Linked DNA regions of Homo sapiens. The protein of the gene in region 1 purifies or fractionates together with the protein of each later gene. This does not show direct contact. Each region holds a gene or a part of one and is shown in the gene's direction. Other genes may lie near its edges. The genes, in order: SULT2B1, NUDT5 and HEXA.

Evidence for each region.
Region 2: the proteins of SULT2B1 (region 1) and NUDT5 fractionate together in Homo sapiens (co-fractionation; one large-scale study listed by BioGRID). This does not show direct contact.
Region 3: the proteins of SULT2B1 (region 1) and HEXA fractionate together in Homo sapiens (co-fractionation; one large-scale study listed by BioGRID). This does not show direct contact.

What each region holds. Positions count from the first base shown.
Region 1 is NC_000019.10:48,583,074-48,586,806, forward strand, and holds part of SULT2B1 (sulfotransferase 2B1), read left to right. Parts: intron 1-3,733. UniProt on the Homo sapiens protein: Sulfotransferase that utilizes 3'-phospho-5'-adenylyl sulfate (PAPS) as sulfonate donor to catalyze the sulfate conjugation. Responsible for the sulfation of cholesterol.
Region 2 is NC_000010.11:12,171,892-12,175,391, reverse strand, and holds part of NUDT5 (ADP-sugar pyrophosphatase), read left to right. Parts: intron 1-1,578; coding exon 1,579-1,674; intron 1,675-2,525; coding exon 2,526-2,627; intron 2,628-3,500. UniProt on the Homo sapiens protein: Enzyme that can either act as an ADP-sugar pyrophosphatase in absence of diphosphate or catalyze the synthesis of ATP in presence of diphosphate.
Region 3 is NC_000015.10:72,342,504-72,345,031, reverse strand, and holds part of HEXA (beta-hexosaminidase subunit alpha isoform 2 preproprotein), read left to right. Parts: intron 1-891; coding exon 892-955; 3' UTR 956-2,528. UniProt on the Homo sapiens protein: Hydrolyzes the non-reducing end N-acetyl-D-hexosamine and/or sulfated N-acetyl-D-hexosamine of glycoconjugates, such as the oligosaccharide moieties from proteins and neutral glycolipids, or from certain mucopolysaccharides.

The sequences.
Region 1 (3,733 bases):
CCTGGAGGTGGAGGTTGCAGTGAGCCGAGATCACTCCATTGCACTCCAGCCTAGGCAACAAGAGCAAAACTCTGTCTCAAAAATAAAAAATAAAAGAAAAAACAGAAGAAAATACCAAGTGTGGCAAGGATGTTGAGAAAATGGGGCCCTTGTGCACTGTTGGTGAGCATGTAGAATGGTACAGCTGCTATGGAAAACAGTTTGGCAGTTCCTCAAAAAATTAAAGATAGAATTACCATATTAACTCAGCAGTTCCACTTCCAGGAATATGCCCAAAAGAACTAAATACTAGGTGGGGGCACTCTGACAGATATTTGTACACCAATGTTCATAGCCACATTATTTGCAATGACCAAAAGCTGAAACTATCCAAATATCTGCCGTTCATGAATGAATGGATAAACAAATTATGCTATATTCATACAATGGAATATTATTCAGCTGTAAAAAGGAAGGAAATTCGTCCGGGTGCAGTGGCTCATGCCTGTAATCCCAGCACTCTGGGAGGCCGAGGCGGGCGGATCACCTGAGGTCAGGAGTTCAAGACCAGCCTGGCCAAAATGGCCAAACCCCGTCTCTACTAAAAATACAAAAATTAGCCGGGCCTGGTGGTGCGCGCCTGTAGTCCCAGCTGCTTGGGAAGCTGAGGCATGAGAATGGCTGGAACCCAGGAGGCGGAGGTTGCAGTGAGTGGAGATTGCGCCACTGCACTCCAGCCTGGGCGACAGAGCCAGACTGTCTCAAACAAACAAACAAAAGGCCAGGCACAGTGGCTTACGCCTGTAATCCCAGCACTTTGGGAGGCTGAGGCAGGCAGATCACGAGGTGAAGAGATTGAGATCATCCTGACCAACATGGTGAAACCCTGTCTCTACTAAAAATACAAAAATTAGCTGGGCATGCTGGCGTGCGCCTGTAGTCACAGCTATTCGGGAAGCTGAGGCAGGAGAATCACTTGAACCCGGGAGGTGGAGGTTGCAGTGAGCTGAGATCGCGCCACTGCACTCCAGCCTGGAAACACAGCAAGACTCCGTCTCAAACAAACAAAAAACACCACACACAGGAATAGCTAAAATAGGGTGCAGCCACTTCCTCTAGGGCTGAAGCCAAACTCCCAAGAAAGAAAGAAATTGGGAAGAAGGACTTCCCTGCCCAACCGGCTCCCCACACAAGATTAGAGTTTCGCTGCAGAGGTATGGTCATGACCCACTGGGTGACTGAGAAGTTCACTGAAGTGCAACAGGCCACTGAAATTTGCTAGGGGGAGGGGTAAACGTCACTGCGTGTCTAGTGCAGGGCTGGCCCCTGTCCATCACAAGATCCCGCTAAGAGGAGCTCGTGAGAATCAGGAAGAGCCCCATCCTCATTCAGTGTTCCTCCAGCGCCCTCTGCTGACAAGGTTTAACACTGAGCTAGCTGGCAGAGGAGAAATGTTTACAGGGTCCAGCTCCAATATCACAAAAACGGCAGAGAGGCATGAAGTTGGAGCCACCAGCCTGTAAACTGATAACTGGTACAAGGTGGTTGTTAGAATGAAATCCAGTGAATGGATTGGATGTGGTGGCTTACGCCTGTAATCCCAGCACTTTGGGAGGCCAAGGCAGGAGGATCGCTAGAGGCCAGGAGCTCCAGACCAGCCTGGGCAACACAGTGAGACCCCATCTCTACAAAAATTTTAAAAATTAGGTGGGCGCAGGCTGGGCATGGTGGCTCATGCCTATAATCCCAGCACTTTGGGAGGCCAAGGCAGGTGGATCACCTGAGGTCAGGAGTTTGAGACCAACCTGGCCAACATGGCAAAACCCCATCTCTACTAAAAATACAAAAACTAGCCAGGCGTGGTGGCACACTTCTAGTCCCAGCTACTTGGGAGGCTGAGGCAGGAGAATTGCTTGAATCCAGGAGGCAGAGGTTTCAGTGAGCCGAGATAGAGCCACTGCACTCCAGCCTGGGCAACAGAGTGAGACTCCTTCTCAAAAAAAAAAAAAAAAAAAAAAAAGCTGGGTACATGTGGTCTAGCTACTCCAGAGGCTGAGGTGGGAGGATCACTTGAGCCTGGGAGTTGGAGGCTGAAGCTGAAGTAAGCTGTGACTGCAACAGTGCACACCAGCCCAGGTCACAGAGCGGAATCCTGTCTCAAAAAGAATTAAATGCAATGAATACTAACAGAAAGTAATTTTGAACGTAATTGTTTCTCTTCTGAACAGCCTGTGGTCTCCTGAAATTCAAAACTGTGAATTGGGTCCTTGATGAGGTCCCTTTCCACTAGGTAACATTCTGTGGCTCCCCACAGAAATAAAGAGGTGAACCTCAGCCGGGCGCAGTGGCTTACTCCTGTAATCCCAGCACTTTGGGAGGCTGAGGCAGGTGGATCACTGGAGGTCAAGAGTTCGAGACCAGCCTGGCTAACATGGTGAAATCCCATCTCTACTAAAAATACCAAAAATTAGCCAGGCGTGGTGGTGCATGCCTGTAACCCCAGCTACTAGGGAGGCTGAGGCAGGAGAATCACTTGAAACCGGGAGGCGGAGGTTGCAGTGAGCCAAGATCGCGCCATTGCACTCCAGCTTGGGCAACAAGAGCAAAACTCCGTCTCAAAAAGAAAAAAAGTGGGGGTAGGGGGGAGGGATAGCATTAGGAGATATACCTAATGTTAAATGATGAGTTAATGGGTGCAGCACACCAACATGGCACATGTATACATATGTAACTAACCTGCACGTTGTGCACATGTACCCTAAAACTTAAAGTATAATAAAAAAAGGGGTGACCCTCAAAAGTGGGCAGTGAAAAGTGAAAAGAGCAGAGATTTTTATGTCCAGACACCTGGGTTCAATTCCAGCTTTCTCCATGTATTAAAGGAGTGCCTGCTGGGCATGATGCCTCTGCTCCCAGCACCTTGGGAGGCTGAGGCAGGAGGATTGCTTGAGCCCAGGAGTTCAAGACCAGCCTGGGCAACATAGTGGGACCGTATGTCTTCTAAAAATAAAAATAAGAAATTAGCCAGGTGTGGTTGTGTGCACCTGTGGTCTCAGCTACTCGGGAGGCTGAGGCAGGAGGATCTCTTAAGCCCGGGATTTCAAGGCTGCAGTGAGCTGTGATCACACCACTGCACTCCAGCCTGGGTGACAGAGCAAGATTCTGTCCCCAAAAAAATAAATAAGTAAAGCAATTCTGGCTGTACTAATAGATCAGCCTCAGAATTTCAGCGGCTGAAGCCAAGTTTGTTTCTTTTTCCTATAAACTGTAGTTGGTGCAGGAAGGGTGGAAGGAAGTTGGTGGGGGGATATCCATGCATTCCCAGACATTTGGTTCCTTCCATCTTATGGCTCTGCCATCCCCGGGAGTCCCAGATTCTCCCCTGGAGTCTCTGTATCCAGAAGCAGAGAGGGAGTGGAGAGTCACGTGGCGTGCGTTTATGGGCCAGGCCTGGAAATAGCCGCACATCACATCGCCGCCACCTATACTTCCTTGGCCAGACCCAGTCTCTTGGCCCCACACATAGCAGCAGGGGAGAAGAGAAAAGGTCATCACGCCATATTCCCAGCAGAAAAATGAAATGGGGTTGGGTGGACAGCTCACCAGTCTCTGCCCTGCACCACTTTCCTAGCTTTGTCCCCTTGGACGAGCGACATGGTTTCTGTAAGGCTCAGTTTCTGGCTCCGAAAATGAGGTTAAGCAACCTTGCCTTCTCTGCCAGCTGTAAGGAATCAGTGTGATAAAATAGGTGGTA
Region 2 (3,500 bases), on another chromosome or scaffold:
TTACAGGCGTGAGCCACCACACCCAGCCTGAGTTTTTCATTATTTTATTTTATTTTATTTATTTATTTTTTGAGATGCAGTTTCACTTTTGTTGCCCAAGCTAGAGTGCAGTGGCACGATTTCAGCTCACTGCAACCTCCGCCTAACAGGGTCAAGCGATTCTCCTGCCTCAGCCTCCCGCGTAGCTGGAATACAGGTGCGTACCACCACACCTGGCTAATTTTTTGTATTTTTAGTGGAGACAGGGTTTCACCATGTTGGCCAGGCTGGTCTCGAACCCCTGACCTCAGGTGATCTGCCCGCCTCGGCCTCCCAAAGTGCTGGGGTTACAGGTGTGGGCCGCCACGCCCAGCCTTATTATATTTTTTAATTCCTTTCAGGAAAAAGAGTCTGCGTTGCTGCTCCCTTCCTCTTCCTTGGCCTCTCTGTTCACTCCTCACAGTGGCCATGGGAGTCCCCTAATGGCCACCAGTTTGCTCCTTTCTGGCCTTTCATTCCCAGGCCTCGGTGTTTTACTATGAGGGAGGAAGACAAGACAGGTGATGCTGTCAGCATCCTACGTGTGAGGAAGCAGAATATGAGCAGGCTTCCTGTGCTGCAGCCACACAGCAAGCTCCCAAGCCTAAGCCAGTTGGTCACCACCAAGTCACATCTCCTCACAGATGCTGCCCGTGCTGTGCAGAGCAGCGTGGAGATGGTCGTGAAGGCTCATGATGGATCTGGGTCTGAATAGGACGACTGGATGATGCCTTCAGAACCTGATTCATCTGCTCAGAGTTTTATTCTTTCGCCTTTTTGTTTCTATAAAAATTCCAAGCTGGGCACAGTGGCTCATGCCTGTAATCCCAGCACTTTGGGAGGCTGAGGCGGGTGAATCACTTGAGGCCAGGAGTTCGAAAGCAGCCTGGCCAACATGGTGAGACTAAATACAAATTAGCCTCTACTACAAATACAAAAATTAGCCGAGCATGGTGGTGTGTACCTGTGGTCCCAGATACTCAGGAGGCTGAGGCAGGAGAATCGTTTAAACCCAGGAGGCAGAGGTTGCAGTGAGCCAAGATCACACCACTGCACTCCAGCCTGGGCAACAGTGTGAGACTCCCATCTTCAAAAAAAAAAAAAAAAAGAGTTCCAATCCTCAGGTTTCTCTGTAAGACCACTTTTCACAGTGCTCCGATTCTCCTAACGTAGTGCAGCAGCAGGTGTGTTACAAGAATGAGGGGTTCAGCCGGGCGCAGTGGCTCACACCTGTAATCCCAGCACTTTGGGAGGCTGACGTGGGTGGATCATGAGATCAAGAATTCAAGACCAGCCTGGCTAAGATGGTGAAACCCCATCTCTACTAAAAATACAAAAAATTAGCTGGGCGTGGTGGCACGCGCCTGTAATCCCAGCTACTCTGGAGGCTGAAGCAGAGAATTGCTTAAACCTGGACGGGCGGAGGTTGCAGTGGGCCGAGATCGCACCACTGCACTCCAGCCTGGGCGACAGAGTGAGACTCCATCTCAAAAAAAAAAAAAGGAGGGTTTAAAGAACCGGATTTCCCGCTCCCATCACACCAATGATTTGGACTTGCAGGTCTCATAGATGATGGTGAAACCCCAGAAGCAGCTGCTCTCCGGGAGCTTGAAGAAGAAACTGGCTACAAAGGGGACATTGCCGAATGTTCTCCAGGTTGGTATTGCTTGAAAATTCACCAAGTGATGGATTCCTCCGTCTGGGAAGGGATTGATTATTTGGGTGTTCTTTACGCTCAGAATTCACTGAAGAGAAAGAAATCACAGATTAGGACTGGTCACCAAGTGTAAGGGAATCTCCCCTCCCAGGAGGAAACTGGAGCCAGAAGGGCCTGAAGTTGGGGGAGAATTAATGAAATTAAATTGCCTTTTGGCTGGATGTGGTGGCTCATGCCTGTAATCCCAGCACTTTGGGAGGCCGAGGCAGGTGGATCACCTGAGGTCAGGAGTTCGAGACCAGCCTGACCAACATGGTGAAACCCATCTCTACTAAAAATACAAAAATTAGCCGGGTGGCGCACACCTGTGATCCCAGCTACTCGGGAGGCTGAGGCAGGAGAATTGAACCCAGGAGGCAGAGGTTGCAGTGAGCCAAGATCACGCCAGTGCACTCCATCCTGGGCAATAAGAGCAAAGTGAAACTCTGTCTCAAAAAATCAATTGCCTTTAGGAATTTCCTACCCCCTGAGTTTTATTGCTCACCCATCTCATGCATGTGCTACCCTCATCACTGGAAGATTTTTTTGAGTTTGATGTGGTGAAGGGATTTTATGACTTGACAGTACCATCTAACCCCGCAGACCTAGCAAGCTTGACTCGAGAGCTCTGGGGAGAGTGTGAGTGCCCAGATGCTTTGCAGCCTGCAGATCTGCCTACCAAATGTGAGAACTAGTTTTCCCGCATCACCTCCACGTCAATGCTGAGCTGCGGGACGCATCTTCTTCCTAAGACCATAGTGAAACAAATGCCAAAGGGACTGACGCATCTGACTGTCCCTTCTCTCCACAGCGGTCTGTATGGACCCAGGCTTGTCAAACTGTACTATACACATCGTGACAGTCACCATTAACGGAGATGATGCCGAAAACGCAAGGCCGAAGCCAAAGCCAGGTATGTGTGTGTCGGCTGTGATGAAGGTGGTGTGGTTGCATTACGTGTCTTGGAACTTGCTGCTAGTTTGATTTATTAAAAGAATGTAGTCTTTCATGGAAAGAATCGGTCTTTCAAATAGACTTCATCAGTATTCTTGTCTCTCTTCCTAATCATGTATTTTAGCATTTTTCTTTTGCCACTTCATTCATCTTTACGCTTTCTTTGTAAAAAAATGTTAAATGACATATTTCCCTGTTTTCTATATGAAGTGTATTCCCACTTAGTAATATGAGCTGCAGGCTTAAGTAGTAAACAGTGAGAAACTTAAATCACCCTGGTTTCTGTCTTCATGTATATTTTAAGAATGGCCTAAGTTCCCCTGTAGTCCCAGCTGCTCTGGAAGGTGAGGCAGGAGGATCACTTAAGCCCAGGAGTTGGAGGAGCTATGATGGTGCCACTCTGTGACAGAATGAGACCATGTCTCTCTTAAAAAAAAAAAAATGGCCTAAGTAATTGTTAACGGGCAGCAGATTATTCACTATTTCTCTTTGCTCTATAATATTTCTTAGCAACTTTGGATTCAAAAGCTGTGATGTCTCTGTCAATTCCGTGTTGTCTCTCCCATCCTTTTAAAGGGGGTATTTATATGTGCACCACAGTAAATCAGTATCAGTGATATTCTTTAACTTCTTACCCTCTTCAGTTGTTCATATTTATGTTTCAGTATCCCACTGCAACTAATTTTAAGTCTTATTTTTTGCCGGGCGTGGTGGCTCATGCCTGTAATCCCAGCACTTTGGAAGGTTGAGGTGGGTGGATCACTTGAGGTCAGGAGCTCGAGATCAGCCTGGCCAACATGGTGAAACCCTGACTCTACTAAAAATACAAAAA
Region 3 (2,528 bases), on another chromosome or scaffold:
ACACTGTGCTAAGTTTGTTACAAATATTGTCTCATTTAGTCTTCACCACAGCCCCATGAGACAGGTGCATTTTAGAGATAGACACTGAAGCACAGAGTTCAGGACCTTGCCCAAAGTCACTAAGAAGCAGGATTTGAACCAGGCTGACTTACAGGATGTCATGACACCTTTGCCTCTGTCAGGGATGTGCCTGTGTAAGATAGTCATTTCCCTGATTCCTTCGTTGGCTAGGTCTTGAGTACTTGGGGGACATAGCCTAGTGCAGAGCAGAGTCCTGGGCTGAGAGTCAAGCATGATGGTGTCTAAGCCTCAATTATGTCATTCACTGGGTAACTTCCAGCTGGTTCTCTAAGCATGTTGCTTACTTGGATGATAAGGGAAGCATGCCTAGAGGTCCCCTAAGGAGATTGGTCAGGTTATAGACTGAGACCCAAGGACAGGATTTCGCATCCATGTTCATGGACAGGACAGCACCTAAGTCCCCCAGTGCCACCATATTTACAGCATTTTAGAGTCAGGAACAGAGGGCTAAGTAGACCAAGAGCATTGGCTGCCTTTCAGACATCCATCTATATTCTAAAGGGATTGAGTTATTTGGGGTTAGGGTACAGAGATGGGCAGGATATAAATAGATGTCGCCAACGTTTCTGGATCTCCAAGACCTGTATCAGAATCACCTGAGGCACCTGTTCAGCTTGCAGATTCTTGCCAATACTTTGCCCCACCCCAGGTGAGAATCTCTGGAATTGAGATTCCCAGGTGCATTTGGTGTACAGTGACAGTTTGAGAGTCACCGAAATGGGGAAGGAGAGACTGTTGACTGGTGTGAAAAGTGTTGCTGGGGCCCCTTCTGAGGGGCTTATCTTGCCATTTCTTCATGTCCTCTTGCAGGCGAGGTGTCCAGGCCCAACCCCTCAATGTAGGCTTCTGTGAGCAGGAGTTTGAACAGACCTGAGCCCCAGGCACCGAGGAGGGTGCTGGCTGTAGGTGAATGGTAGTGGAGCCAGGCTTCCACTGCATCCTGGCCAGGGGACGGAGCCCCTTGCCTTCGTGCCCCTTGCCTGCGTGCCCCTGTGCTTGGAGAGAAAGGGGCCGGTGCTGGCGCTCGCATTCAATAAAGAGTAATGTGGCATTTTTCTATAATAAACATGGATTACCTGTGTTTAAAAAAAAAAGTGTGAATGGCGTTAGGGTAAGGGCACAGCCAGGCTGGAGTCAGTGTCTGCCCCTGAGGTCTTTTAAGTTGAGGGCTGGGAATGAAACCTATAGCCTTTGTGCTGTTCTGCCTTGCCTGTGAGCTATGTCACTCCCCTCCCACTCCTGACCATATTCCAGACACCTGCCCTAATCCTCAGCCTGCTCACTTCACTTCTGCATTATATCTCCAAGGCGTTGGTATATGGAAAAAGATGTAGGGGCTTGGAGGTGTTCTGGACAGTGGGGAGGGCTCCAGACCCAACCTGGTCACAGAAGAGCCTCTCCCCCATGCATACTCATCCACCTCCCTCCCCTAGAGCTATTCTCCTTTGGGTTTCTTGCTGCTTCAATTTTATACAACCATTATTTAAATATTATTAAACACATATTGTTCTCTAGGCACTGTGGTAGTGGGTTTTTTTGTTGTTTTTGTTTTTGAGACTGTCTCAAAAACTCTGTCGCCCAGGCTGACAGTGCAGTGGCACAATCTTGGCTCACTGCAGCCTCTGCCTCCTGGGTTCAAGCGATTCTCGTGCATCAGCCTCCTGAGTAACTGGAATTAATAGGCACGTGCCACCATGTCCATCTAATTCATATATATATATTTTTTTTTTCTGAGACGGAGTCTCACTGTCACACAGGCTGGAGTGCAGTGGCACGATCTCGACTCACTGCAAGCTCCACCTCCTGGGTTCACGCCATTCTCCTGCCTCAGCCTCCCCAGTAGCTGGGACTACAGGCGCCCGCCACCACGCCCGGCTAATTTTTTGTATTTTTAGTAGAGATGGGGTTTCTCCGTGTTAGCCAGGATGGTCTCGATCTCCTGACCTCGTGATCCGCCCGCCTTGGCCTCCCAAAGTGCTGGGATTACAGGCGTGAGCCACCGCGCCCGGCCGAATTCATCTATTTTTAGTAGAGATGGGGTTTCACTATATTGGCCAGGCTGGTCTTGAACTCATGACCTCAGATGTTCACTTGTCTTGGCCTCCCAAAGTGCTGGGATTAGAGGCGTGAGCCACCGCACGCGGGCCTGTGGTAAATTGTTGAATTTGAAGGACTCAGAGGCCCTGGTCAATTCCAAAATAACGTAGGCGACTTCCATCCCCCTCCTCCCAACCATTTTCAGCCCAAAGCATCTTCGCAGGGAATGGATGGCTGCGCGGAGGTGGGCGGTGGCTCTGGAGAGGGTCTTTGCAGGTGTGATTTTCTCTAGAAGGAAATGTCTCGTCGTGGACCCAGACTGCCCCCTCCTGGTTTCAGATGCAGAAGTGATACTGTAAGCCAGAGGCGGGGGCAGTAATGCATCGCAGCCATTTTAGGTGAGGATTTCC